Regions from separate parts of the Homo sapiens genome. Here region 2 is linked to region 1. Evidence: fine-mapped expression QTL. A gene starts in region 1. The other region holds a variant in brackets. All regions are shown on one strand. Distances are from middle to middle.

The links. PIP is the estimated chance that this variant, and not a neighbour inherited with it, causes the effect.
Region 2: its variant is fine-mapped to the expression of PPOX in skin (TwinsUK, PIP 0.95).

What each region holds. Positions count from the first base shown.
Region 1 is chr1:161,162,149-161,170,342 of GRCh38, forward strand. PPOX (protoporphyrinogen oxidase) reads left to right here and starts at 4,278. Exons shown (of 13, transcript NM_001122764.3): 1 at 4,278-4,524; 2 at 4,692-4,786; 3 at 4,952-5,086; 4 at 5,223-5,338; 5 at 5,847-5,979; 6 at 6,284-6,428; 7 at 6,845-7,035; 8 at 7,512-7,572; 9 at 7,758-7,876. The coding sequence starts at 4,700. USP21 (ubiquitin specific peptidase 21) reads left to right here. Exons shown (of 14, transcript NM_001014443.3): 5 at 122-242; 6 at 467-578; 7 at 771-926; 8 at 1,407-1,471; 9 at 1,730-1,833; 10 at 2,016-2,102; 11 at 2,386-2,464; 12 at 2,687-2,794; 13 at 2,881-2,995; 14 at 3,209-3,575. The coding sequence ends at 3,299. RefSeq lists an enhancer at 5,333-5,996.
Region 2 is chr1:161,328,576-161,343,088 of GRCh38, forward strand. SDHC (succinate dehydrogenase complex subunit C) reads left to right here. Exons shown (of 6, transcript NM_003001.5): 4 at 12,019-12,080. Among named protein-coding and RNA genes, the nearest start is that of SDHC, 21 kb to the left of the region's middle. The variant TTTTC/T (reference allele first, on the strand shown) is at 4,053.

The DNA of each region.
Region 1 (8,194 bases):
TGGGGGTGGGGAAAACCCACGAGCTTGGGGAAGGCATGTGGAAGGAGAGCTCTGAAGCTCTTCTAAGGCTTCCTGGGCAGTGGTCTGGAGAGATAACAGCAGTGTCCCTACTGCTCCCCAGTGCTTCCTGAATGCTGTGCTGCAGTGTCTGAGCAGCACTCGACCTCTTCGGGACTTCTGTCTGAGAAGGGACTTCCGGCAAGAGGTGCCTGGAGGAGGCCGAGCCCAAGAGCTCACTGAAGGTGGGGCAACAACTCCTGCTCCCTCTGTTCAAGTCCCTTTTTCCCCAACCACTTGCAGGTCCATCTGCCACTGGTGGTGGCCCCCAACCCTTAAATCTGGCAGTTGTATCTACTTTTCCCAGTGCCTACTTTCCTAAAGGTTATTTTCTACCCTCTGAGCCACCTTTTGCTTGCCTCTTCCAGACATTAACCTTTGTTTGCCTTCCCCACTCCCATCCCAACAGCCTTTGCAGATGTGATTGGTGCCCTCTGGCACCCTGACTCCTGCGAAGCTGTGAATCCTACTCGATTCCGAGCTGTCTTCCAGAAATATGTTCCCTCCTTCTCTGGATACAGGTGGGAGAGCTGGAGGCTATGGGATTTCTCTCTGGCCATGTCTGGGGGTAGGGCCAAGCAAGGGCCCTGGCAGCATTGTTCTGAGCCTTGAGATGTTCTTCATCCAGGAAGTGGGGACCAATATCTGGGCAGGGAATAGTGTCTGTGGACTAGGAGAGGAGTCAGTTGCCCATACTCTTTGTCTGGCTGTAGCCAGCAGGATGCCCAAGAGTTCCTGAAGCTCCTCATGGAGCGGCTACACCTTGAAATCAACCGCCGAGGCCGCCGGGCTCCACCGATACTTGCCAATGGTCCAGTTCCCTCTCCACCCCGCCGAGGAGGGGCTCTGCTAGAAGAACCTGAGTTAAGGTAAGGGTCGTTCCCTCTACCTCCTTTCCCCGTAGTTTATCAGCATCATTCACACTTCATAGAACTAAACTAGTAAAGATTGAAGATGTAGGGTCCAGGGAAACCCTTTAGTATAGAAAATAGTATGAGAAGCAACATAGAAGTAGAAGGAAGGAAGGAAGAGGGGGAGTCTAAGGGAGCAGATGGAGGCAGAAGATCATGCTAGGGATGTCACCAAATTGAAGAAGGGGATAATTCATTTACAGGTAGAGGAAGACAGCATATTCTTCCCTTATGTACATTCCTTTCTTTTCCTCTCACCTCGGATTTCCCTAGAAAGTTCATTGAGGCATTATTCTTTTGACTTTTCCTTGAAATTTAGGGAAGGAGCAGGGGTGTGGATGGGGAGTAGGGCTCTGTAGGTTGTTTCAGTGGGTGTTGGGGGTGCCCAGTGTTCCTGCTGTCTCATGGGTGCTCCCCACTTCCTTTGATCTGTGGTAGTGATGATGACCGAGCCAACCTAATGTGGAAACGTTACCTGGAGCGAGAGGACAGCAAGATTGTGGGTATGGAATGGGGCAAAGCAATGAGGGAAAATTAGTGTGTGAGGGGGGTACAGGCTTGGGGGGAAAAATCGATACTATCAAGGGGTATGGGAACAAGACTGGATGATGCAAATGTGAAGCTGTGTGAAGAGTTGATTAGGAGTGTTGGTAGTGGGAAAGGAAGGGTCAAGCAAAGGGGCAGGAAGAGATGGAAATCCAAGAAATCATCTCATAACATCCAACAATGACCTTTTCTCCTGTCCCTGTGCTTCTGTCTAGACCTGTTTGTGGGCCAGTTGAAAAGTTGTCTCAAGTGCCAGGCCTGTGGGTATCGCTCCACGACCTTCGAGGTTTTTTGTGACCTGTCCCTGCCCATCCCCAAGGTGGGATTCCAGAGGATTCCGGGGTGGACAGGACAGGGGCTCTGTGACCCAAGCCTACCCACCCCCAGAGTGTGGGCGGGAACCCTGTGGGTTTCTGGAGCAGAACTGAAGCCTGGATTGATTGAGAAGAGTTGGAAAAGGAAATTCAGAACATGTTGACCTTTCTTCCCCTTTTCCCCCAGAAAGGATTTGCTGGGGGCAAGGTGTCTCTGCGGGATTGTTTCAACCTTTTCACTAAGGAAGAAGAGCTAGAGTCGGAGAATGCCCCAGTATGTGGAGGTTCACAAGGGATACAGTAAGGGTGGGAGACCTGGGGGGACTCCATGTGGATAAAAGGGATTGCATGATGTCTTCATATGGGGAATAATATTTATGTATCTGGGTTTGTGTTGGAGTCTCAGATCTGTTCTAGTACTCCTAGAGCAAAGGGGAGAAGCCAAGAGGATCCAGCTGTAATGAAGAGCATACTAAATTTGTATGTGGATCGGGGTGTCAGAAAAGCCAATTGAGGTTAGGAGCATATTAACCTAACACTGTTTGCCATTTATTCAGGTGTGTGACCGATGTCGGCAGAAAACTCGAAGTACCAAAAAGTTGACAGTACAAAGATTCCCTCGAATCCTCGTGCTCCATATCCTAATCTTCAGATTCTTACTTCTCTTAGGATACCTCCCATACATTCTCTTTCCTCCATGTTTCCAGAGAATTGAATTTTCCTTAGGAAAAGTCTGCCACCCACTTTTCCACAAGATGCTCCCAGTGTGTCGGGAGTGGGGAGAGGACAGCTTTCAGGATAGAAGAAGTTCCCCTCAGAGGCCCACTGCCTCCCAAATGCTCCTTAACCAGGGCTTAGATCTGAATCGATTTTCTGCCTCCCGAGGCTCCATCAAAAAAAGTTCAGTAGGTGTAGACTTTCCACTGCAGCGACTGAGCCTAGGGGACTTTGCCAGTGACAAAGCCGGTGAGTCTGGTGGGGAAAGTCCTAAGGAGCCAAAGGAGTGGGGGCACAGCTCTGATTATAGAACTTGATCATCTCCAACCCCGCAGGAAGTCCTGTATACCAGCTGTATGCCCTTTGCAACCACTCAGGCAGCGTCCACTATGGCCACTACACAGCCCTGTGCCGGTGCCAGACTGGTTGGCATGTCTACAATGACTCTCGGTGAGAATAGCCTCCTATTTACATCCTGCCCCATTCCCACTCAGCCCTGACACCCTCCCCTTCTATGAAGCTCCAGGAGAGCAGAGTGCCAGGTGAAAGGAGAGGTGGAGGTCTTGCCTGATCATTTCCTGGATGCTCTGAGGTTCGGTCTTGTAGGGAGAAGGGAGTAAACAGGAATGACCACAACCCTTTCCCGATCTCCTTTTTTCCTAGTGTCTCCCCTGTCAGTGAAAACCAGGTGGCATCCAGCGAGGGCTACGTGCTGTTCTACCAACTGATGCAGGAGCCACCCCGGTGCCTGTGACACCTCTAAGCTCTGGCACCTGTGAAGCCCTTTAAACACCCTTAAGCCCCAGGCTCCCCGTTTACCTCAGAGACGTCTATTTTTGTGTCTTTTTAATCGGGGAGGGGGGAGGGGGTGGTTGTAGCTCCATTATTTTTTTTATTAAAAAATACCCTTCCACCTGGAGGCTCCCTTGTCTCCCAGCCCCATGTACAAAGCTCACCAAGCCCCTGCCCATGTACAGCCCCCAGACCCTCTGCAATATCACTTTTTGTGAATAAATTTATTAAGAAAAAATGATGTGCTTATTTGTATTTTTGCTTAGGGGGTGATAGAGAACTGAGCCAAATTGGAGTCTTCTTGGGACCCAAGTTCCCTCTCTAACAGGTGGGGGCGCTCTCAGAGCCGAGGGGGAAGGTTTCGGGGATGGTGCTGGACCCGGACCTGTGTCCCCCAGCAGTGAAGGTTATGTACTGGGAGGAAAAGAGGAAAGGCATACTTGAGTGAGGCTGCGTGCAGGCTCTGGGGCGACTGGTTTGGTCGGCGATGGGGGAGTGCCACTGTTGACAAACACTGGGTACGTTGCCGGGCGGCCCTAGCTCCCGTAGGCCCGGTCTGTTGCTAACATCAAGGAGCTGTTTATGGAGCCGCCTCCCCGTGGACTGGCCTTAAGTGTCCCTATCTATTCTCCCTACGACCAAAGCTCCTGCGGCCTTCCCTCTAGGGTTGTCACCCTAGCTGGACCTGGTAAGCTTGTGCTGGGGAACGCTAACTCCAGCATTAAGCGCTCGCCGCCTCGGTCCTGAGGAGGGCAGTGACGGGTACGGCCGCTCACTCCCAGCTCGGCGCTAACACGGTTAACCTCCAGCTCTTACAGCTGCCGTCGCTCCGCCTCTGCCAGTTCAATGTTTTATTGGTGAACGTGATCCGGGGCCTTCCAAGTCCCGCCAATCCAGATGTAGGAGAGGTAGGGTTAGGCGCGTGCCGCGAGAACAGAGTGGACGGAGCGTAGGAGAGACCGAAAAGGCTGGGGGTGGGAGTAGCGGATTTGAAGCACTTGTTGGCCTACAGAGGTGTGGCAAGCAGAGCACCTCAGAACTCAGGCGTACTGCCCGCCGCCCGAGCCCTGCGAGGGCCGATAGCGAGGGTGTGGCCCTTATCTGCACCCAGCAGAGCGCCGGCGGGGTACGGTCTTAGGACCTCGATCTCCTTCTCCCTCATTTTCTCTCATCCCTACCTATTGTGGGTGAGTCCTGGCCCCTGGACGGGGACCTCGCTGTTCCACCAGCCCATCCGTGCACACTTAGTTTCCCCTAAAGCAGTGAGTGGCCGGGATAGAACTCAAAACCGGCGGGGCTTCTGGAGCGCAGGTTGTCCCCGGTCTGCCTGTCCATATCGCCCCCTTTCCCCCAGGTTTCCGCATGGGCCGGACCGTGGTCGTGCTGGGCGGAGGCATCAGCGGCTTGGCCGCCAGTTACCACCTGAGCCGGGCCCCCTGCCCCCCTAAGGTGAGTGCTCCACTTGTGCCAGAGGGAGCTTCATTTAATGCTCTTCCCATTTCCATCAAAAGCTAGATGGATCCTGGCCCTCTGAATATGCCTCTTCCCCTCCCCTCCTGACCTCTCGCCGGCGGCTACAGGCGGTGCTGCAGTGTCTCTCCCTCTTGTCGCCAGGTGGTCCTAGTGGAGAGCAGTGAGCGTCTGGGAGGCTGGATTCGCTCCGTTCGAGGCCCTAATGGTGCTATCTTTGAGCTTGGACCTCGGGGAATTAGGCCAGCGGGAGCCCTAGGGGCCCGGACCTTGCTCCTGGTGAGAGGCTTGTGGGATGTCTAGGAGAGGTTGTGGAGGGGGCTTCCATTGGGGAATAGAGTTTAGGGGAGGAAGTATGTTTGGTGGGTCAGATCTTCCCTTAGTTTCTCCTCTTCTGAGGGCATGTGGAGAGCAGGTTTCTGAGCTTGGCTTGGATTCAGAAGTGCTGCCTGTCCGGGGAGACCACCCAGCTGCCCAGAACAGGTTCCTCTACGTGGGCGGTGCCCTGCATGCCCTACCCACTGGCCTCAGGTAACACCAGCACCTCCGCTCCTTTTACTGTGCCCTCATCCTCATATGCCTTCCATTTCTTTCTTCTTTTCTTTTTTTTTTTTTTTTTTTTTTTTTTTGAGACGGAGTATCGCTCTCGCCCAGGATGGAGTGCAATGGCGCGATCTTGGCTCACTGCAACTTCCGCCTTTCGGGTTCAAGCGATTCTCCTGCCTCAGCCTCCCGAGTAGCTGGGACTACAGGTGCCTACCACCACGTCTGGCTAGTTTTTGTATTTTTAGTAGAGATGGGGTTTCACCATATTGGCCAGGCTGGTCTTGAACTCCTGACCTTGTGATCCGCCCGCCTCGGCCTGCCAAAGTGCTGGGATTACAGGCGTGAGCCACCACGCCCGACCTGCCTTCCATTTCTTCATCTCCCTGTCAGCCTTCCCAGCAAAAGGAAGCCAAATGAGTGGAAATGACCCCAGCGCCTGGAGCTGGGGAGGTATGTCAGGAGCTTCCCCCTCACTATGCCTTTCTCCATGCAGGGGGCTACTCCGCCCTTCACCCCCCTTCTCCAAACCTCTGTTTTGGGCTGGGCTGAGGGAGCTGACCAAGCCCCGGGGCAAAGAGCCTGATGAGACTGTGCACAGTTTTGCCCAGCGCCGCCTTGGACCTGAGGTGACACTTGCCCAGAGGCCCCAAACCTCTTCCCTCCTAAACCAGCTGCAGAGCTCCCTGTTCAAATCTACCACCTAGGGGCTCTTCTGTATCATTTGGGGATGCCCTCTTCTCTTCATACCCCACCCCCTCATAATTCCCAAAACTCATTATTGGGAGTGAAGGCCTTCATTTCCATCCGTCACAGTGGGAATGTCCCCCAACCCAAACCCTATCCCACCCTCATTCCCTACCAAATAGGGGCTGTGGAAATCAGTCAGTGTAGATTATTTTTTCGCTCCTTAGTCCTAGTCTCACCCTTAAGGTGGCGTCTCTAGCCATGGACAGTCTCTGCCGTGGAGTGTTTGCAGGCAACAGCCGTGAGCTCAGCATCAGGTCCTGCTTTCCCAGTCTCTTCCAAGCTGAGCAAACCCATCGTTCCATATTACTGGGCCTGCTGCTGGGGGCAGGTGAGGGGGGATTGATTCAGAGGGTGAAAATATTAAGTACTGCCAAAGTGAGGGAGTGGGGACAAGGGGTGCTATTCAATGATTCTTTTTTTCTTTTTTGAGACGGAGTCTTGCTCTGCTGCCTAGGCTGGAGTGCAGTGGTGCAATCTCAGATCGGCTCGCTGCAACCTCCGCCTCCCAGATTCAAGCAATTCTCCTGCCTCAGCCTCTTAAGTAGCTGGGATTACAAACATGTGCCACCACTCCCAGCTAATCTTTGTATTTTTTTGTAGAGATGCAGTTTCACTATGTTGGCCAGGCTGGTCTCAAACTCCTGACCTCAAGTGATCCACCCGCCTCGGCCTCCTAAAGTGCTGGGATTACAGGTGTGAGCCACTGCATCCAGCCTCAATGATTCTTCTTTGCTTCCTCTGCAGGGCGGACCCCACAGCCAGACTCAGCACTCATTCGCCAGGCCTTGGCTGAGCGCTGGAGCCAGTGGTCACTTCGTGGAGGTCTAGAGATGTTGCCTCAGGCCCTTGAAACCCACCTGACTAGTAGGGGGGTCAGTGTTCTCAGAGGCCAGCCGGTCTGTGGGCTCAGCCTCCAGGCAGAAGGGCGCTGGAAGGTAGGGGAACCCCTGGAGTGTAATGAACCTGTCAGTGTTTCCATCTTTATCCAAGTGGCTTAACTAGGCCAGGGCCGATAGGACTGGAGTTCCTCATTGTTTTTGTGCCTTAGAAGCTACTTAGACATGGGCTACCCCAGAATCCTAGGCCCTATTTGTGAACCTTCCTCAAAGAGCCTATGCAAGTCTGTGGATAGAAGTAGTACTTATAAGTGGCTTAGAGATAGGGGAAAGAACCCAGCTTCACTGAACATTTCAGAACAGCCACACTGGCCTGTCTGGTCCACTTCCTGGAGTACACAGAGGAATGATTTTTTGTGAAGTCTACATAGTCACCCAATCTCTTCATCCTGGGTCAGTACACAGTCTCCCCGGCCACATGGGTGCCTGGGAAACTGAGAGTGAGGCACCAGAAGTCTCTTTTCACTCATCAAATTCTCATTTTCTGGGTCTCTCAAATGTTTTCATGCTCTCAGGTATCTCTAAGGGACAGCAGTCTGGAGGCTGACCACGTTATTAGTGCCATTCCAGCTTCAGGTAATGGAATAGCCACCTTCCCCTTCCCCAACCCCTACCAGTGAGAAGCAAAAGCTATACCTTCCTGGGTCAGCAGGACCACACCATGCCCCTGAACTGGTCATCTCTATGGGAGTCTAATCCCAAAGAGGACTGACAACTGTAATGGGAATGCCTTCTGAGTCAGGCCTCTGCCTGATCTCTAGTGCTCAGTGAGCTGCTCCCTGCTGAGGCTGCCCCTCTGGCTCGTGCCCTGAGTGCCATCACTGCAGTGTCTGTAGCTGTGGTGAATCTGCAGTACCAAGGAGCCCATCTGCCTGTCCAGGTATGATAAAGGGACGGAGAGGCTGGGCATGGTGGCTCACACCTGTAATCCCAGCATTTTGGGAGGCCGAGGTGGGCAGATAACAAGGTCAGGAGTTCGAGACCAGCCTGGCCAACATGGTGAAACCCCATCTCTACGAAAAATACAAAAATTAGCCAGGTGTGGTGGCTTGCACCTGTAATCTCAGCTACTCGGGAGGCTAAGGCAGGAGAATCGCTTGAACCCAGGAGGTGGAGGTTGCAGTGAGCTGAGATCTCGCCATTACACTCCAGCCTGGGTGACAGAGTGAGACTCTGTCCCCCCCACCCCCCCAAAAAA
Region 2 (14,513 bases), 170 kb after region 1:
ACTTCCCTCACTTTTACTCAACCAAAATACTGCTATGTAGATGAGGTGAACCCTTCAGGGTAGAGGGAGATGACATAAGGATTATCTTACACCTTTTTTATGTGGAGATGACTAAATTCTATCTTGTCATTACAAGGGTAATCTATTTTGCAAAACTACCATTTAGAAAATTCTGGTAAGTCAAAATATAATTCCCATTAATTAAAACATTTTTGAAACAATTTCAAATTTACATAAACGTTGCAGAAATAACATACAGAGTTCCCATATACCTTTATATGGAAGGTATATAGTATATATGCTAAGTTATATAGAAGTTGCAACTTTGCAAATTCTTCTTCTTTTTTTTCTGAGACAGAGTCTTGCTCTGTTGCCAGGCTGGAGTGTAGTGGCGCGATCTCAGCTCACTGCATCCTCTGCCTCCCGGGTTCAAGCGATTCTCCTGCCTCAGCCTCCCGAGTAGCTGGGGCTACAGGTGTGCACCACTACGGCCAGCTAATTTTTGTATTTTTAGTAGAGATGGGATTTCACCAGGTTGGCCAGGATGGTCTTGATCTCTTGACCTAGTGATCCGCCCGCCTCGGCCTCCCAAAGTGCTGGGATTACAAGTGTGAGCCACCATGCCCGGCCACAACTTCTTAAATTATTCAGACATGCTAATAAGCAGATTCCCAGCTGCTTAACATGTCTGAATGATACAAGAAGAAGTTGCAATGATGATGATATCCAAGTATTATTCCTGTATTTGTTTTCTTCTTCTTTTTTTATTTTTCTGAGGCAGAGTCTTGCTTGGTCACCCAGGCTGGAGTGCAGTGGTGCGATCTAGGCCCACCGCAACCCCTACCTCCTGAGTTCAAGTGATTCTTGTGCCTCAGCCTCCTGAGTAGCTGGGATTACAGACATGAACCTCCATGCCCGGCTAATTTTTGTCTTTTAGTAAGAGATGAGGTTTTGCCATGTTGTCCAGGCTGGTCTCAAACTCCTGGCCATAAGTGATCCACCCACCTCGGCCTCCCAAAGTGCTGGGATTATAGGCATGAGCCATCACGCCCAGTCCCTGTATTTGTTTTCTATTGCTACTATAACAAGTATCACAAACTTAGTGGCTTAAAATAACACAGATGTATTGTCTTACCATTCTTTAGGTTAGAAGTACAACACAGGTCTCATTAGGCTAAAATTAAGTTGTTTGCAGGGGCTGCATTCTTTTCCAGAGGCTCCTTGCCTTTTCCAACTTTTATAGGCCATCCACATTCCTTGGGTTATGGCATTCTTTTTCTATTTTCAAAGCAAGCAATAGCAGAGTCCTTCTCGCTTTGTATCACTCTGACTTCTTCTACCTCCCTTTTCTCCTTTCAAGGGACCCTTGTCATTATATTTAGACCTCCCCAAATATTTCAGGACAATGCCTCCATCTCAAGGTCTTTAATTTAATAATATCTGCAAAGTTCTTTTTGTGATATAAGATAATATATTCACAGGTTCTGGGGATTAATACATTGACACCTCTGGAGGGGAGGGTGCATTATTTTACCTACCACAGTCTACCCTCTAGCCCTCAAAGTTTATGTCTGTCCCATGACAAAATACATTCACCACATCGCGGTGGCCCCAAAAGTTTCAACCTACTGTAGCCTCATCTCAAAGTCTTAAAATTTCATCTAAATCTCCCCATCTGAACCAGATATGGGTGAGGCTCTGGGTATAATCCTTTTGAGGAACATTTTCTCTTCATCTGTGAATCTAAAGCAACAAGTTACATACTCCCAAAATACAGTGGTGGGACAGACATAGGATAACAACTGTAGACATTCCTGCTCAAAAAGTGAGAAAATGGAAGGAAAAAAGGAGTCTCTGGTTCTAACCAGGTTTGAAATTCAGCCAGGCAAACACCATTTGATTTCAAGGCCTGAGAATAATCCTTTGCAGCTATTGGCTTTGCCCTCTGGGCTTATAGCTCCATCCGCTATCCTTCTTTGTGAAAGGTGACACATGCTTTTGCAGCTGAGTCATTTTTAACAGCCTCTTTTTTGTCTGTAGAAATTTCGGGGTATGACAGTCTTCTTTTCATCTTCTCTCTGTCACTTTTAGTCTATGCTGGCAGTATTTCTGTTGGTATAACATTCTTAAGAACATTGTTGGGACCAGGCGCGATGGCTCACATCTGTAATCCTAGCACTTTGGGAGACCAAAGCAGGTGAATTTCCTGAGCTCAGGGGTTTGAGACCAGATTGGGCAACATGGTGAAACCCTGTCTCTACGAAGATACAAAAAATTAGCCAGGTGTGGTGGTGCGCCTGTAGTCCCAGCTACTTGGGAGGCTGAGGCACAAGAATCTCTTGAACCTGGGTGGTGGAGGTTGCAGTGAGCCGAGATTGCGAGATTGTGGCGCCACTGCACTCCAGCCTGGGCTCTGTTTCCAAAAAAAAAAAAAAAAAAAGAGAACCTTGTGGGTCTCCTGCTTGTGTCATGGGAATTTGCTCCATTAGACAAGACGTTCCCTTATAGAATTTTCCTAAATAATCCTGCCTCTGTTTCTGCCTTCTGATGAGATGGTTGAGGGGATCTACTAGTAACATGCTTAATTTCAAAACGCCTTTTATGTGACTAAATATTCTGCCCTTTCAATCTTTCTCAGGTATTAACATAAGGTTACATGGCCACGCCCTGACTTTTTCTTTTTGCCAATGAATATCCTTTTTTTTTTGTCCAGACAGAGTCTCACCCAGTCACCCAGGCTGGAGTGCAGTGGCACGATCTGGGCTCATTGCAACCTCCGCCTCCCAGGCTTAAGCAATCCTTCCACCTCAGCCTCCTGAGTAGCTGGGACTACAGTGCATGTCACCACGCCCAGCTAATTTTTGTATTTTTTTATAGACATGGTGTATCACCATCTCTATAAAACCATGTTGCCCAGGCTGGTCTCAAGCTCCTGGGCTCAAGTGATCTGCCTGCCTTGGCCTCCCAAAGTGCTGGGATTATGTGTGAACCACTGTACCAGGCCTTGACAGTAAATATCTTTTTTTTTTTTTTTTTCTGAGACAGAGTCTCACACTATTGCCAGGGCTGCAATGCAGTGGCGCAGTCCCGGCTCACTGTAACCCCCGCCTCCCTGGTTCACGCGGTTCTCCTGCCTCAGCCTCCCAAGTAGCTGGGATTACAGGCGCACACCACCATACCTGGCTAATTTTTTGTATTTTTCGTAGAGACGGGGTTTCGCTATGTTGGCTAGACTGGTCTTGAGCTCCTGACCTCGTGATCTGCCCGCCCTGGCCTCCCAAAGTGCTGGGATTACAGGCATGAGCCACCGCGCCTGGCAACAGTGAATATCTTAATTTTAGTATTTTTGCTGGGAAGGCTGAGAATTTCCCAAATCATTAAGTCCTGTTTTTTTGTTTGTTTGTTTGTTTTATTTAAGAGACAGGGTTTCACTGTGCCACCCAGGCTGGAGTGTAGTAGTGGTGTGATCATAGCTCGTTGTAACCTTGAACTCCTGGACTCAAGTGATCTTCCTGACTCAGCCTCCTGAGTAGCTGGGACTACAGGTGCATGCCACCACACCTGGCTAGTTTTTAATTTTTTGTAAAGACGGTCTCAATATATTACCCAGGCTGGTCTTGAACCCCTGAGCTCAAGCGATCCTCTCACCTTTTTCTCCCAAAGTGTTGGGGTTACAGCTGTAAGCCACCGTGCTCAGCTTGCTTTTTATTTAACAGCTCTTCCCTCAGTCTGTTTCTTTCCTTTCACATTTTACTATAAAGAGCAAAAAGAAATCAGGTTGCCACTTCAGTAGATTCTGCTTTCCACATTATCGTGGGACATAATTCTGCTAAACTTTCTGCCCTATGTAACAAGGATCCCCTTTCCACAAGTTTTTAATAACATGTTCCTAATTTCCTCCTGAGCCTTTACTAGCTGAATTAACATTCATATTTTCCTTTTTGAAATACAATTTGTATACCATACGGTTCACACATTGAAAGCATACAGTTTAGTGGCTTTTGTTAAATGCAGAGTTGTTCAGCCATCACCACAATTTTAGAATATTTTCT[TTTTC/T]TTTCTTTTTTTTTTTTTTGAGATGGAGTCTCGCTCTGTTGCCCAGGCTGGAGTACAGTGGCATGATCTCGGTTTACTGCAACCTCTGCCTTCTGTGTTCAAGTGATCTCCTGCCTCAGCCTCCCAAGTAGCTGGGATTACAGATGTGCATCACCATGCCTGACTAATTTTTGTGTTTTTAGTAGAGACAGGGGTTTCACTGTGTTGGCCAGGCTGGTCTTGAACTCCTGACCTCAGGTGATCTGCCTGCCTTGGCCTCCCAAAGTGCTGGGATTATAGGCATGAGCCACCATGCCCAGCCAATTTTAGAATGTTTTCATCACTCCAGAAAGAAACACTACATTTCTTAGCCATCACCACCAATCGTTTGTCCCTCCCAGCTCTAGACAATCAGTTATTTACTTTCCATCTTATAAACTTACCTATTCCGAACATTTCATTTAAATGTAGTGATAAAATATGTGGTCCTTTGTGACTGGCTTCTTTTACTTACCATAATGTTTTCAGCGTTCATCCATGTTTTAGCATATATCAGTGCTTCCTTCCTTTTTATGGCCGAATAATATTTCATTGTATGTACATACAGTGTTTTATTTACCCATTTATAAATTGATGGACGTTTGAGCTGTTTCCACTTTTTGGCTATTAGAAATAATGCTGCTATGACCATTTATTTGTGTACAAGTTTTTGTGTGCACATATGTTTCATTTCTCTTGGGTATATACCTAGGAGTAGAATTATTGCATCATATGGTAACTCTATGTTTAACTTTTTTTTTTTTTTTTTTTTTAAAGACGGAGTCTCGCTCTGTTGCCAGGCTGGAGTGCAGTGGCGCAGTCTCAGCTCATTGCAACCTTCACCTCCCAGGTTCAAGCGATATTCCTGCCTCAGCCCCCAAGTAGCTGGGACTACAGGCATGCGCCACCGCGCCCAACTAATTTTTCTATTTTTAATAGAGACGGGGTTTCACCATGTCGGTCAGGATGGTCTTGATCTCTTGACCTCATGATCCACCTGCCTCAGCGTCCCAAAGTGCTGGGATTACAGGCATGAGCCACGGCATCCGGCCTATGTTTAACATTTTGAGGAACTACCAGACTGTTTTCCAAAGTGACTGTACCATTTTACATTCACACTAGCAGTGTATAAGGGTTCTAGTTTCTCCACATCCTCACCAGCACAACATCCATATTTCTACTAAAATCTGTTCAAGGCAATCTGGGCTTTTTAAAAATCATGGTCCTAAAAATTCTTTTAGTCCCTTCCCACTGCCCAATTTCAAAGGCACTTCCACATTTTTGGGTATTCGTTACAGCTGCACTCCTCTTCTAGTTACCACAATCTATACTAATTTTCTATTTGCTGCCATAACAAATTACTGCAAACGTTGTGACTTAAAACAACACAAATTTATTACCTTATAGTTCTGTGGGTCAGAAGTTTGACAAGATCTCCCTGGGCTAAAATCAAGGTGTTGGCAGGGCTCTGTTTCCTTCTGGAGGCCCTAGGGAAGAATCCATGTCCTTGCCTTTCCTAGCTTCTAGAGGCTATCTGAATTCCTTGGCTTCTGCCCTCCTTCCTCCATCTTCAGAACCAGCAATGCTACATTGAGTTCTTCAGTCACATCATGCTGACCCTGCTTCCGTCATCTCATTTCTTCTTTGACTCCTTTCTTCTGTGAGCCTCTTCTGCTTTTCTTTTTTCTCATTTCTCTCTTCTGCTGTTAAGGACCTTTATGATTACACTGGGCCCGTCCTAATAATCTAGGATAGTCTATGTTGTTTTGTTTTTGAGACAGGGTCTCGCTGTGTTGCCCAGGCTGAAATGGCACAAGTTTTCTACAAGTTTTTAATAAAACTTGTGGGGCATGATCATGGCTTACTGCAGCCTTGACTTCCCAGGCTTAAGTGATCCTCCCAGGTCAGCCTCCCAAGTACCTGGGACTATAGGCATGTACCACCATGGCTGACTAATTTTTAAATATTTTCTAGAAATGGAGTTTGGCCATGTTGCTCAAGCTGGCTTTGAGCTCCTGGGCTCAAGCTGTCCTCCCACTTCGGCCTCCCAAAGTTCTGGGATTACGGCTCACTCCCTCTTTATCTTAAGGTTGTCTTATTAGCAACCTTAATTTCATCTGCAACCTTAATTCCCCTTTGCCGTAAAAGGTAACATATTCATAGGTTCTAGAGATTAGAACATGAACATCTTTAAGGAGACTATTATTCTGCCTACTACAACTTCTTAATACTTGGCTGTGCATTTCCTCAATTGCAAGACAGTCTCCAAAGTACAACCATCACAATGTTACTATCTAAACCGTAGGTCCCATTCAAATTTTGCCACTTGTCCCATTAATGTCCTTTATAGGCCTAAGATTGAACCTAGAATTATATATTACATTTAGTTGTCATGTCTCTTTTTCCTGCAGTATGGGAGAGATTTTTAGTCTTTCCTTATTTGTTATGACCTTGACGTTTTTAGAATGTTCCTTAATTTGGGTTTGTTTGGTGTTTTATGATTTATGCATTTTTGGCAGGAATACCCCTGCGGTAATGCTATACTTCTGTCAGTACATTGTATCAGGAGGCATGTGCTAATGATTTATCCCATTACTGGTGATGTTAACTTTTGTCACTGTTTAAGATGTGTCTGCTAGATTTCTCTACTGTAAAGTTACTGAATAAGGATGTTGTATTAATTAATACATATTTTGGCGGGAGATACTTTGAAACTCTAAATATTCTTTCTCATCAGATATTTACTCACCAGTATCTGTTGGAGGTACTTGCCTAAATCATTTATTACTGTGATAGTTGCCAAATGTAATGTTGCTAATTTTATATATTATAATAATATTTTCTAGATTTGTTTGTTTTGATAGGGTAAAGCTTGCTTTTTTTATCAGTATGGACTCAAGGATAATATGGATCAAGCATTAATTTCCCCAAAGGATTATACTTTGTTATTATTTATTTTGGTGTTCAAATTGTCTCAGACCTGGCCAATAGGAGTTCTTCAAAATGACTCCTGTGAAATCAGTATCTGGGTGCTAGATGTGCTCATTGCTACTAGGATGTCATTGCTTCTAGGCCCGGTCTGTGGATAGAGGTAGCATATATATGTATGCAATCTCTGTCACATACATACGTGTGTGTATATAAGTATATACATACATCATACATACATATATACATATATACATACATCTCTGTTTATCTCATCTTCAGAAGTGGCATTGATAACAGTTTTTGCTGATGTCTTTGAAGATAAGTCCCTGTAAATCTGCTTTTTGTTTTTTTAGGCTAACCCAGCAAAGCATCTTGAGCTCTGCTACTCTCTTGGGTTTCTGCCAGTGAGGCTGGCCATTTTTTAACCACCTCCACAAATACCATAACCCTTCAGTTTTTTTCCAAGCCAGATTCCAGGAATAATCCTGTTTGTAGAAACTGGACATGCCACTAAAACAGAAGGAGGCTAATAAGTGATCTTATTTCTTGCTTCTCAATCGTGAAACTTTCTTTTTTAAGAGATAAAAGTTTTAGGAGGCCCGGTGCGGTGGCTCATGCCTGTAATCCCAGCACTTTGAGATGCCAAGGTGGGTGGATCATGAGGTCAAGAGATCGAGATCATCCTGATCTCAGGTGAAACCCTGTCTCTACTAAAAATACAAAAATTAGCTGGCCGTGGTGGCACGTGCTTGTAGTCCCAGCTACTCAGGAGTCTGAGGCAGGAGAATCGCTTGAACCCGGGAGGCGGAGGTTGCAGTGAGCCAAGATTGCGCCACTGCACTGTAGCCTGGCAACAGAGCAAGGCTCCGTTTCAAAAAAAAAAAAAGTTTTGGGGAAGAATTATAATGAAAAAGAGAAAAGAGCATCCTAAATTATTCTGAATCTGTATATTTAAAGCCGTGGCCTTTTTTCACAGGTCATATAAAGAATGGTTGTAGGTTGGTGAGGTGAGTCTTTCACTACCTTATTTGCTTTTCTGGTTATGTAACTCCAGACATACTTGGGGGGAAAAAAGCAGCAGGGAACACGGGGCTATATCCAGAGTGGCATGTCAGGGAAAGATATCTGAGATACCTGAAGTCATATTTTCTATTACCCATTTTTTGGGTTTTTTGAAAGAGGCCTGGAAGTAAATGGTTAGTGATGTTAAACATCTTTTCATGTACTTATTGGCCATTGGCAGTCTGGGCTGTTGGAGAAATGTTTTTACTTTCTGGAGGTATTTTTTTATTGTTTTTTTTGCTTTTGAGGCAGAGTCTCCCTCTGTTACTCAGGCTGGAGTGCAGTGGCGTGATCACGGCTTGCTGCAACCTCGACCTCCCGGGCTCAGGCAATCCTCCTTCCTCAGTCCCCCAAGTAGCTGAGACTATAGACACACGCCACCATGTCCGGCTAATGTTTGTATTTTTTGTAGAAATGGGTTTTTTTTTTTTTTTTGCCATCTTGCCCAGGCTGGTCTCAAACTCCTGAGCTCAGGCAGTCTGCCCACCTCAGCCCCCTAAAGTGCTAGGATTACAGGCCTGAGCCACTGTGCCTGCCCACATCTTGATTTTCTATACTAGACTCTTACCTAATGTTCAAACAGGGCCTAGTGAAGAAGACTTGTCTTTGCTCCATGGTGCCCGAGGCCTCAGCTGGAAAACACAAAGGCTAGGGCCTGAATTAATCTGAAGATCCAGTCACTCACATGTCTTGGAGTTGATTCTGGCTCTTGGATGGGGCCCTTATTTTCTCACCACATAGGTCCTTTCACATGTCTTTGTAGGCTGCTTTGGGTTTCCACACAGCATGAGGAAGGAAGGAGAATTCGTAAGTCATGCAGCATTACTTCTGCCGCATTCTACCTTTTGAGGCCGTCGGTCATCAAGTCCTGCCCAGGTTCAAGGGTAGAGGCTAAATACTTGCTTGATGAGAAATGACAAGATTCTGGAAGATCCTGGGGGACTGGAAATAATATTATGGTTATTTTTAGAAAACAATATTTTTACCTTGTCATTACTGGGCTAGCCAGGCTATGATTTTAACCGTTTTTGAAAAATAGGGTAACATTTGAATTCAGCAGTTTCATATTACATCACTCCCATTTTGTATATCAGTATTTCTGAAAGATTTCTGGAACAGTGCATATGTTTCTTCTATTAGCTCTTTCAGTCATGGGATTTGATTCATCTGGTCCCAGAGCCCCAAGTGTGTTTGGAATCTTCCAATTTCCTCACCTCTTTAGGGTTTCAAGTCTTTCAGATCAATATTTGTTCTGTCTTTTTCATGCTGATAATTATTCTCTTTGACAAGAAAAATAATTGTGCAATCTGTTTCACACTCTTGTCATCAATTAGCATAAAATTGTTCATCCCAGTTAGGAGGCTGACTGTGTCAGAATACAATTTTAAAACCTCTTTTTTGTTGTCCTTGAAATTGTTGCAAGCCTCAGCTCCTTCTGGGTTTCGGTCTCCTGATTCTTCTTACCAAATTATGCTATCGTTCTCTGTCCTTGGTTATGTGTCTGTTCTTCCACCTTTTATATTTCTGTTGTTAAATCTGAGTTGATCAGAGTGGTATGTGGCTCTTCTTCCACCTTTTATATTTCTCTTGTTAAATCTGAGTTGATCAGAGTGGTATCTAGTTAGTATTAATATTTTTAATTTATTTGGGAATACTCCTTTCTTACTTACTATGACCATTTTCATTATGTAGGCAGAATTTTCTTTTGAGATCTTTTTAACCTCTTTATTTCTCTTCAAAGTGTTGAAGATACGGTTTGATTATGCTTAGTATTCTTTGTCTAAGCTAACATTCCAAGATGAGCGTTAGCTTTCTTCAGAGACTCTTGTTCTTTCCATTTTACCCACCAGTTCTCTCTTGAGCATGAGAACTAGGTCTAGAATAACAATGTTGGTTGTCCTTCAATGGAAAGTTGATGATTCATAATTTAAAAAGGGGTTTGATGATGAAAAGTATTTCAGAACTACTGTGGATTAAGAAATATATACTAAATCCAGAAGATTGGATATAAAAATTTGGGATAGGTAACTTATTAGGAAATAAGTGGTATGTTCAGTTTGGATATTTTGGGGCATATAATAAGGGAGGATTCAAGGATGACCATGTATTATATGAAACTGTGGATAAATGAAACTCAGGTTTTCTTCCATCAGTGTTATACCTGGAGAAATAGAGGGACCCAGGTTGTATTACAGTGATTGCTTTCTTTCTTTTTCTTTTTTTTGAGATGGAGTCACCCTCTGTCGCCCAGACTGGAGTGCAGTGGCGTGATCTCCATTTACGCCAAACTCCGCCCCCCGGATTCAAGTCATTCTCCTGCCTCAGCCTCCCAAGTAGCTGGGATTACAGGCATGCACCACCACGCCTGGCTAAATTTTTGTATTTTTAGTAGAGATGGGGTTTCACCGTGTTGGCCAGCCTGGTCTCGAACACCTGACCTCATGATCCACCCGCCTCAGCCTCTTAAAGTGCTGGGATTACAGGCGTGAGCCACCGTGCCCGGCCTATAGTGATTACTTTCTAATTGTATCAACTGTATTTATTTATTTAGAGGCATGGTCTCTGTCTCTCTCTCCCCAACCCGGGCTGGAGTACAGTGGCACAGTCATAGCTCACTGCAGTCTGGAGTTCCTGGCCTCAAGCGACCCTCTCACTTCAGTCTCCCAAGTAGCTGGGACCACAGGCCTCTGCCACCACACCCAGCTAATTTTTTTTTTTTTTTTCGTAAAGATGGGGTCTCATTACGTTGCCTAGGTTGACCTTGAACTCCTGAACTCAACGGCCCCCGCCTTGGCCTCCCAAAGTACTAGGATTACAGGTGTGAGCCACCATGCCAGCTCCAACTTTAATGAGTGTCTTTGACCCATGTTTCTCCTTGCGAAAGGAGTTTTGAGTTATAATCATTTTTTTTTTTCTCAGCCCTATCAGTGATGCAGTCTGGTAAAGGTAGGGATCCTTCTCCATAAATCAGTTTTCTTTATTCTTTAATTTATTTTTGTAACCTAATCCTGATACAGGTGTTTTTTTTTTTTTTTTTTTTTTTTTTTTGGAGACAGAGTTTCACTCTTGTTGCCCAGACTGGAGCTGGAGTGCAATGGTGCGATCTTGGCTCACCGCAACCTCCACCTCCTGGGTTCAAGCAATTTTCCTGCCTCAGCCTCCCGAGTAACTGAGATTACAGGCATGTGCCACCACATCCGGCTAATTTTGTATTTTCAGTAGAGACGGGGTTTCTCCATGTTGGTCAGGCTGATTGCGAACTCCTGACCTCAGGTGATCCACCTGCCTTGGCCTCCCAAAGTGCTGGGATTACAGGCGTGAGGCACCGCGCCTGGCCCAGGTTTGTATTTTTAAAGTAAAAAGTGGAAACACGGCTGGGCACAGTGGCTCACACCTGTAATTCCAGTACTTTGGGAGGCCGAGGTGGGCGGATCATGAGATCAGATCAAGACCAGCCTGGCTAAGGTGATGAAACCCCTTTACTAAAAATACAAAAATTAGGCGGACCTGGTGGCAGGCACCTGTAATCCCAGCTACTCAGGAGGCTGAGGCAGGAGAATCTCATGAACCCGGGAGGCAGAGGTTGGAGTGAGCTGAGACTGTGGCATGGGACTCCAGCCTGGGTGACAGAGCAAGACCCTGTTCCGGGGGGGTAAAAAAAAAAGTGAAAAGACAGGAATGCAAAAGCTGGTGATTTTTTGTTTTGTTTTGTTTTGTTTTAAGAAAATATTACCTATTCAGGAGAATTGCTTGGACCCGGGAAGTGGAGGTTGCAGTGAGCTGAGATCATGCCATTGCCAGCCTGGGCAACAGAGCGAGACTCTGTCTCAAAAAAAAAAAAAGAAAAAAAAGTGCCTATTTCAGAATTAGTTTATATTTTTGCCAAGATAGACTCTCTACTATGGTGTCATCTTTTCCTTTTTAAAATTGTCTTTGTGTGTTTCTTTACAGTTGGTCTCTTCCCATGGCGATGTCCATCTGCCACCGTGGCACTGGTATTGCTTTGAGTGCAGGTATGTATATGTGTTTTTACACACACATATGTGCTTCTTTGAAAAACTTGGCTGTTTCATTGGCCCTAGTCTCCGCCTCCTTTGAAACTCAGCACTTGATTTAGAGGGAACAGTAAGTCTCTTAAGTTTATTGTTCATTCATCCCTTTAACAATTAATTATGAGTTTGCACTGTGCTCAGATTCTTTTCTTCTTTTTTTTCTTTTTGAGACAGAGTCTTGCTCTTTTGCCCAGGCTGGAGTGCAGTGGCGCGATCTCGGCTCACTGCAACCTCCGCCTGCTGGGTTCCAGCGATTCTCCTGCCTCAGCCTCCTGAGTAGCTGGGATTACAGGCATGTGCCACCACGCCTGGCTAAATTTTTGTATTTTTAGTAGAGACGGGGTTTCACCATGTTAGCCAGGATGGTCTTGATCTGACCTCATGATCCGCCTGCCTCAGCCTTCCAAAGTGCTGGGATTACAGACATGAGCCACTGTGCCTGGCCCAGATTAGTTTCTTAGCAAATTTTTAAACCATTCCCTAGCACTTCCTGATATCATGTTTATTGAAATTATAGAGAGCAGAGAAATGTAATAGAGATGGGCTGGCTGACTGATCATTGATGAAACACAGTCCAACCTTATTTTTCCAGAAGCTCAGTTTTAGCACCCATTCTTATCACCTAGACATGCTCAGTCCCCCAAAGACTAGCTCACTAACCAGTCTCACAAAATCTTGATTTACAGACCAGAATGTCTATTTATTCATTTATATAATATGAACTGCAGCTACAGAGTGAATTATATACTGGTCTTAGATAATTAGTACATCCTTTTTAGGTAGGAAGGTTTATTATATGGAGTGCAGATTATAATCAGTTTTCTGGGATCTGATGTATCTTTTCACAGTAGGGATATACTTTACAAGAGGGTCAGCTAGATTTAAAAATTATGTCTGGCTGGTGCTGGAGACATAGACATTTTTGCTTTTTTATGTATTTATTTTCTCACAAGAATGTGCATGTAACATATTTTTACTTTTTTAGCTTTCCTTTATTTAGCCTTATAGCATACTTTGCTCTCCTACCCCCACCAAAAACAGAAACAAAAACTAGATTATGTTCCCTGGATACATGCTCTTAAAGCATTCTAGTTTTTCTTTCATAATCATAGTTGTAATTTACTTGTTCATTGTTGTTCTTCCTTACTGGATTGTCTGTTCCCTGAGGGCTTAGACTGCATCTGTCTGTATTTTTAATTATCTAGTAGGGTACCTAGAATGCAGTAGATAATTTAGTAAATATTTGGTGAATACAAAATGAATACCACTCTCTTTTTTGTTAATGTGTTTTATATATTTCTGTCCCAAATTTCTATTCCATTTATAATCATATTTTTTGGCTCTAGAAGTATCTTATTTTGGTCCCCTGCATATTGACTATAATAACTACCTAACTAGTATTGTATTTCAACTGGCATTTCTGTGTGATGTGATTACTAGTTTAGCTGAAAGCTATTCAGTTCAGTGGGAGCCAGAAGAGGTTATTGTACATGAGAGTGCTGCATAGGTAAATCTGAGTTTGCTCTCTATTAGTCTCCTTGAGACATTGGGGGAACTTGTGTTCTCTCCCAGCGAAGGTGATCTAGCCCATATATATCCACAGGGAGAACAGGTGCAAACTAGGAGTAGTGGAGTGCTTTCTAAAAGAAATGCTCCAATGCACTATTAGCACATACTCAACAAGACTTCTGTTCCAAGTTGATAGTCCTGGGACCTTTGCTGGCAAAGGAAAATGAGCTTATGACTTAGAACAGTGTGTAAATCCCTGCTGTGTGTACAAACTTTTCTCTCCTGTGGATAGTTCCCTGGTATGTCTTTTTTTTTTTTTTTTGAGACAGAGTTTCGCTCTTGTTGCCCAGGCTGGAGTGCAATGGCACAGCCTTGGCTCACTGCAACCTCATGAGACCAGCCTCCTGGGTTCAAGCTATTCTTCTGCCTCAACCTCTCAAGTAGCTGGGATTACAGGCGCCCACCACCATTCCCTGCTAATTTTTGTATTTTTGGTAAAGATGGGGTTTCTGAACTCCTGACCTCAGGTAATCTGCCCGCCTCGGCCTCCCAAAGTGCTGGGGTTACAGGCGTGAGCCACTGTGCCTGGCCCCTTGGTATATCTTTAACCTCATCCTAGGGAATAAGAGGAAATATCTTGCCTAGAATCGGTATGAAATTATATACCTGAGAGACAGAAGCCCCACTGTTTTACCTTATGTAAAGCTCTGTCTGAGCCCCTCCATCGCGTCTCTTTTGTTACTTTAGCCTGGGAGCAATGCCTAAGTTTTATTCATCACATCAGGCATCATTACAGTCTTGCCAGGAGATGGCCCATTTGTACAGAGTAGAGCAGATGGCAACCTTCAGGTCCTATCGTGTAAGTGTGCTCTTGCTCCAGAAATT